Homo sapiens: one gene and its partner. The protein of the gene in region 2 interacts with the protein of the main gene of each other region in a pairwise test. Each region holds a gene or a part of one and is shown on either strand. Other genes may lie near its edges.

The links. The genes of interacting proteins can lie anywhere in the genome.
Region 1: the proteins of NCK1 (region 2) and KDR interact in binary tests that used the Homo sapiens proteins (3 or more experiments, as listed by UniProt).

Annotation. Positions count from the first base shown.
Region 1 is NC_000004.12:55,111,993-55,115,645, reverse strand, and holds part of KDR (vascular endothelial growth factor receptor 2 precursor), read left to right. Parts: intron 1-234; coding exon 235-365; intron 366-603; coding exon 604-772; intron 773-1,380; coding exon 1,381-1,520; intron 1,521-2,164; coding exon 2,165-2,342; intron 2,343-3,653. UniProt on the Homo sapiens protein: Tyrosine-protein kinase that acts as a cell-surface receptor for VEGFA, VEGFC and VEGFD. Plays an essential role in the regulation of angiogenesis, vascular development, vascular permeability, and embryonic hematopoiesis.
Region 2 is NC_000003.12:136,865,164-136,868,816, forward strand, and holds part of NCK1 (SH2/SH3 adapter protein NCK1), read left to right. Parts: intron 1-3,653. UniProt on the Homo sapiens protein: Adapter protein which associates with tyrosine-phosphorylated growth factor receptors, such as KDR and PDGFRB, or their cellular substrates. Maintains low levels of EIF2S1 phosphorylation by promoting its dephosphorylation by PP1.

The DNA of each region.
Region 1 (3,653 bases), on a different chromosome or scaffold from region 2:
ATACACACAGATATATACACATGCATGTGCATGCACAAACACACACACACACATACACACACACCCTCATGTAGCACAGATATCTATCAGCAGAATAATCTGTGGATGCCTTTGGTTGTGTGAGGTGTCCCTTCCAGTCATTCACTTGTCTGGTTAGAGTTTAGGAACCTGAAAAATGACCAACTTTTCTAGTAAATACTATTAACTCATTAATAAAACTAAATTTTCTTCTAGATTACAGATCTCCATTTATTGCTTCTGTTAGTGACCAACATGGAGTCGTGTACATTACTGAGAACAAAAACAAAACTGTGGTGATTCCATGTCTCGGGTCCATTTCAAATCTCAACGTGTCACTTTGTGCAGTAAGTTGCATCTCCTCCAATCGTCTCTTAAGTTTTTATAATTTTAAGCTAATATTAAGATGGGTAACCTGTTTATAATATTCACAATGAGTTTTAAGGATCCTTTAGGAAGGGTCAAATGCAATGAATAAAACTAATTAGTATTCTTAAAAATAAGATGAATTCTTCAGTGATCATTGTACATGGCTCTCATTTTTGGTACTGGATTAAATATTTGATATGTCTTTTTATTACCCAGAGATACCCAGAAAAGAGATTTGTTCCTGATGGTAACAGAATTTCCTGGGACAGCAAGAAGGGCTTTACTATTCCCAGCTACATGATCAGCTATGCTGGCATGGTCTTCTGTGAAGCAAAAATTAATGATGAAAGTTACCAGTCTATTATGTACATAGTTGTCGTTGTAGGTAAGAGGACATTTCCTTTCCATATCATTAATAACATATCCTTGTATTAAGATCTTGGAGATAACAACATAGAGTGAAGAAGGATATTGAAAAGTATAGGAACTCAGGATATGGTGTTGGGCAATTCATCTGCTCTTCTCTACCAAATAAACCCATGTGCAATTGAGGTTGTCTCTTTTCTTGCCAAGATTAAGGAAGAAAAAGAAAACTTTTTAAAAAAAGGATGAAAGCGAATGGTATTACTCGAGCACATTTTATGAAGAATTCAATGTTCAGAGCATTGCTTGCTATCAATTATTTCAATTATGACTATTTTATGGAAACTTCAGCAATTTGCTAAAGCTGGCCCTACTGGCCTAGGGCTACTGACCACTGAAAGTTTACTACTTTTCTGTCCACTGGGTTACAACATCTTTGAGATCTGTGAAGGTAGTGCTTTGTAAACCTCTGTTGGCCATTTTCCTGGGAGCTACCAAGTATTGGTGAGGCCTGCAGGGAAAAACAATGTGGCATGTTTTAAAGTTGCATTACTTTAAAAAATAAATCTGTGCAAAGTTATAGGCTTATTTGCTCTCTCATGTTCTGTTTTTTCAATTTACTTGCTCTAGGGTATAGGATTTATGATGTGGTTCTGAGTCCGTCTCATGGAATTGAACTATCTGTTGGAGAAAAGCTTGTCTTAAATTGTACAGCAAGAACTGAACTAAATGTGGGGATTGACTTCAACTGGGAATACCCTTCTTCGAAGGTAACGCTAATGATTCAAAGCCAGACCTCCAAATACTTAGATAATAAGCCCCAGTGAAGTTTGCTTGAGAGATAGGGGCCTCTTTGGCCAGATAAAATGTAAGAGCCTTAAACACACACACATACACACCCACTCACACACACATACACACACACACAATTTAAGGGAATTGCAGAACAGATAGCACCCACCAAAAGGTGAAATACCAGGAATTTTGTCCTATTCTGCAATAGCCAGGCTATGAATATTAGTTTTCTCTAGGTGATTACATCTTTCCACATTATGTCATTTCTCTGTTCTCCAAAGTTTTTGATCTACATTCCTTTTAAGGGAATTTCTCTTTAAGAGGTGGCATGAGATACACTGCTCCTTAAACAGTGGTCACATTTACTTGTGTTTCTGCAGTTTATATCCATCTCACTTTCACCACGTGAGGTTTTAAAAATCCTAATTCAGTTGGTTCCATTTATTTCTCCTGAAACAAAATATATTTGTTGTCTGCATGAGGTTAAAAGTTCTGGTGTCCCTGTTTTTAGCATTAAATAATGTTTACCAAAGCCCAGATTTAATTCTGTGTGTTACTAGAAGTTATTGGGTAATGTTATATGCTGTGCTTTGGAAGTTCAGTCAACTCTTTTTTTCAGCATCAGCATAAGAAACTTGTAAACCGAGACCTAAAAACCCAGTCTGGGAGTGAGATGAAGAAATTTTTGAGCACCTTAACTATAGATGGTGTAACCCGGAGTGACCAAGGATTGTACACCTGTGCAGCATCCAGTGGGCTGATGACCAAGAAGAACAGCACATTTGTCAGGGTCCATGGTAAGCTATGGTCTTGGAAATTATTCTGTGCCTTGACAAGTGAGATAATTTAAATAAATTTAGGTCACTTAGTGATTCCTATTTTGTTCATTCAGAAGATAGTTTCTAGTTTTTCTTGTTAGGGAGGCCACATGACCTAGAGGTCAAGAGCATAGCTTTGTAGTCAGGAACTTGGGTTCAAACCTCAACTTTAAAGATGAGATGTGCTGATATACAGTAAGAGTTCATTTAGTATTACTTATTATAGTTATTGCTGCTATTAGGATTGTTACTATGATAAATAGTATTAGCTAAGGTAGTTTTTAAATTTTCATTTTATTGCAAGGCTGAGAGGCCTACTTGAATAAGCATGAGCTTTGCAAACTGGGGAAACATTTAGCAATATACAGTTGACCTGTGAGCAACTCAGGGATTGGGGGAACTCAGGGGAGTTCCCCTAACTTTCCCTCCTCTGCAGTCAAAAATCCATGTATAGGCCGGGCGCGGTGGCTCACGCCTGTAATCCCAACACTTTGGGAGTCTGAGGTGGGTGGATCACCTGAGATCAGGAGTTCGAAACCAGCCTGGTCAACATGGTGGAACCCCATCTCTACTAAAAATCCAAAAAATTAGCCTGGTGTGGTGGTGGGAGCTTGTAATCCCAGCTACTCAGGAGGCTGAGGCAGGAGAATTGCTTGAACCCAGGAGGTGGAGGTTGCAGTGAGCCAAGATCGTGCCATTGTACCCCAGCCTGGGCAACAAGAGTGAAACTCCTTCTCAAAAAAAAAAAAAAAAAAAAAATCAAGGTATAACTTTTGACTTCCACAAAACATAACTAATGGCCTACTGTTGACTGGAAGCCCTACTGATAACATAAACAGTCAATTAACACATATTTTATATGTTATATGTATTATATACTGTATTCTTCCAATAAAGCTAGAGAAAAGAAAATGTTATTAAGAAAATTGTAAGGAAGAGAAAATATATTTACTATTCATTAAGTGTAAGTGGATCATCATAAAGGTCTTCATCCTTGTCTTCACGTTGAGTAGGCTGAGGAAAAGGGGGAAGAGGAGGGGGTGGTTTTGCTGTCTCAGGGGTGGCAGAGGTGGAAGAAAATCTGCTTATAAGTGGACTCATGTAGTTCAAGTTTGTGTTATTTAAGGGTCAACTGTAATTGAACTGGAATTAAATTGAACTGGCCTTGAGAAAATCACCTTAATTTTTTGTTTATTCTCTTTCATTTACATAAATGTCTGAGTTTACATGGTAATTTGTGTGGCATCCTACTTATAAGCCTTGGAAAGGATTTTGGAGTTTATATTATGA
Region 2 (3,653 bases):
GCCAGGCTGGTCTTGAACTCCTGACCTCGTGATCCACCTGCCTCGGCCTCCCAAAGTGCTGGGATTACAGGCATGAGCCACCACGCCCGGCCTGTATTTTTAGTAGAGACGGAGTTTCACCATGTTGGCAAGGCTGGTCTCGAACTCCTGACCTCAAGCAATCTGCCCACCTCCGCCTCCCAAAGTGCTGAGATTACAGGTGTGCGCCACCGTGGCTGGCCTATATTCATTTTTCAAAAATTTTCTAGAGTTTTACATTTTCATTGCTTTGTACTTTTACTTTGTCTTATTTTACTTTTTCACCATGTGTTTTTCAAAGCTGAAGGTATATTTGATGTGATTATTATAAATCACTTGTCAGGAAGACTTGACTTAATGAATACAGATACAGTTCATTTTTAAAATCATGGTTTAATAATTTTTAGAATTTACCTTTATAATATAGAAAAATACCAAATGTTCTTTATCTGCACTAGAAAATTAAATGATTATTTCATTAATAAGTAAAATTGAAGGGAACTTTTGAAATCACTGAGCAGTTAACAAATTCTCTATAAATACTGTGATGTTAGGAAGACAACAAGGCTAAATATGACATTTAAAGATTTAAGGAAACTTTATGTCTGGCTGATCCTCACCTTAAACTCTAATGAAGATAGAATTTATAGTCTTCCCTTCAAAACTGATTCCATATGCTGACTTTGTTTTGGTGACATTACCATGCTTTCAATTACCCAGACACAAACTTTGGTTTTATCTCTATGCGTGTAACAATATTGGCTGATTTTTGCCAGCCATTTTTATCTTTGAACTACTCACTAGCCTTTAATTGGGTTTTTTGCTTGATTTTTCTCTCTACTTAGTATGTCTTCCTAAATCTTAGAATTATGCTTCAAACACATCCTTCACTTTTCGGAAACCAGTGATAACTCTCTGTTATCTTCAGAGTATAGTTCAGAATTCATAGCCTAATAACAGTCTGCTCAAACCTGTTTTTCTGGGGCCAGCACTATTTCTTTCTTTTTTTTTAATCAGTGCCAGCACTATTTCTTTATAGGAGCTGTCCACTCTAACCAAACCAATCTCTGATTCTTATTTACTCTTTGTATTTTTGTACCTTCGTATCATTCCTTTTTCTTTCTTTCTTTCTTTTTTTTTTTTTGAGACAGAGTCTCGCTCTGTTGCCCAGGCTGGAGTGCAATGGTGCGATCTCGGCTCCCCGTAACCTCTGCCTCCCGGGTTCAAGCGATTCTCCTACCTCAGCCTCCCTAGTAGCTGGGACTACAGGCATGCGCCACCATGCCTGGCTAATTTTGTATTTTTAGTAGAGACGGGGTTTCTCCGTGTTGGTCAGGCCAGTCTTAAACTCCTCACTTCAGGTGATCTACACATCTCAGCCTGCCAAAGTGCTGGGATTACAGGTGTGAGCCACTGTGCCTGGCCTCTTTCTTTCTTCTTTTTTTTTTTCTTTGAGGCGTCTCACTCTGTCACCCAGGCTGGAGTGCAGTGGCACCATCTTGGCTCACTGCAACCTCCGTCTCCTTGGTTCAAGTGATTCTCCTGTGTCAGTCTTCCGAGTAGCTAGGATTACAGGTGCATGCCACCACGCCTGGCTAATTTTGTATTTTTAGTAGAGATGGGGTTTCACCATGTTGGCCAGGCTGGTCTTGAACTCCCGACCTCAGGTGATCCACATGCGTCGGCTTCCCAAAGTGTTGGGATTACAGGCGTGAGCCACTGTGCCCGTCCAGTTTGCCTAGTCTTTAAAATTTTTTTTTTCTCCTAAATTACCAAGTAGCAAATGAAGTAAAATTTGTTGAATTTTCGCTTTTGGTCCTTTGGTGCAGTCTTCCAAATGTTTTTCCTGTTCCCTATGTTGCTTGCTTTTCTTTCTTTCTTTCTTTCTTTCTTTCTTTCTTTCTTTCTTTCTTTCTTTCTTTCTTTCTTTCTTTCTTTGTTTCTTTCTTTCCTTCCTTCCTTCCTTCCTTCCTTCCTTCCTTCCTTCCTTCCTTCCTTCTTTCTTTCTTTTCTTTCTTTTCCCTTCCTTCCTTCCTTCCTTCCGTCCATCCATCCGTCTGTCCGTCCGTCTGTCTCTCTCTCTCTTTCTTTCTTTCTTCTTTCTTTTTTGACAGGATCTCGCTCTGTTGCTCAGGCTGGAGTACAGTGGCCTGATCACAGCTCCTCATTGTAACTTGAACCTCCCAAAGGCCAGGATTACAGGTGTGCATCAATGTCTGGCTAATTTTTTTTTTTTTTTTTTTTTGTAGAGATAGGGTCTCACTGTGTTGTTCAGACTGGTTTTGAATTCCTGGCCTCAAACGATCCTCCCACCTTGGCTTCTCAACGTGCTGGGATTATAGGGGTGAGCCACTGTGCCTGGTCTGTTGCTTTCCTTTAAACCCATACCCCTTATTATTTTAGTATTCCCTTGGTTTTTAATGTTGTGTGGACTTGAATCATAGAATTATAGAGCATTATTGCTGGAATGTTGGAATCCAACCTTGTGTTTTACAGATAAGGAAACTGAAATACAAATAGACTAGATGCACCAAAATTCAAACATTTAGTGATGGGGGCAGAACAAAGACTCAACCCTTGATCTTCTGACGCAAGTTCTGTGTGTTTATGAAACCATACTACTTCTCATCTCTTGTAATTTTGCCTTATTTGCCTCACATTATTTTGCATTTTGTGTATTTATGCCTTCTCATAGATTGAAAACTTCAGGGCAGGGGAACCTTCATATTTACATTGTAAATTTTTTTTTTTTTGAGACAGAGTTTCGCAGTTTTTGCCCTGGCTGGAGTGCAGCAGCATGATCTCGGCTCACTGCAACCTCCGCCTCTCGGGTTCAAGCAATTCTCTTGCCTCAGCCTCCTGAGGAGCTGGGATCACAGGCACCTGCCACCACACCTGGCTAATTTTGTATTTTTAGTAGAGATGGGTTTCACCATGTTGGCCAGGCTGGTCTCAAACTCCTGACCTCAGGTGATCCGCTCACCTTGGCTTCCCAAAGTTCTGGAATTACAGGCATGAGCCACCATGCCCAGCCTTACATTGTAAATTATTTAAACAATGATATAAAGTCTATATACAGTTTCTTTCCCCTATACTTGTTAGGTGTATTAACACCATTAACAAAAATAATATTGTCATGTTTACCATTGAGTTTTTTTTTTCTTGAGACGGAGTCCTGCTCTGTCACTCAGGATGGAGTGCAGTGGGGCAATCTCGGATCACTGTACCCTCTGCATCCCAGGTTCAAGGGATTCTCCTGCCTCAGCCTCCTAAGTAGCTGGAATTACAGGTGCCTGCCACCATGCCTGGCTAATTTTTGTATTTTTAGCAGAGACAGGGTTTCACCATGTTGGCCAGGCTGATCTCCAACTCCTAACTTCAGTTAATCAGCCTGCTTTGGCCTCCCAAAGTGCTGGGATTACAGGGATGAGCCACCGCACCTGGCCAGTGTTTACCATTGAATTCTATCATCTGCTAAAAAATGAATCTCTTACAGGTTTTACTGCTGCAATTTAGTTTGTCTTTTCGAATCTCTTGATAATGCCAATTAATCTTTGGAGGCCTTGAATGTGGATACAGAACAATGTAATGATTTAGAGGAAACCTGGAGGGCTTATCATATAACTAAATGCAGT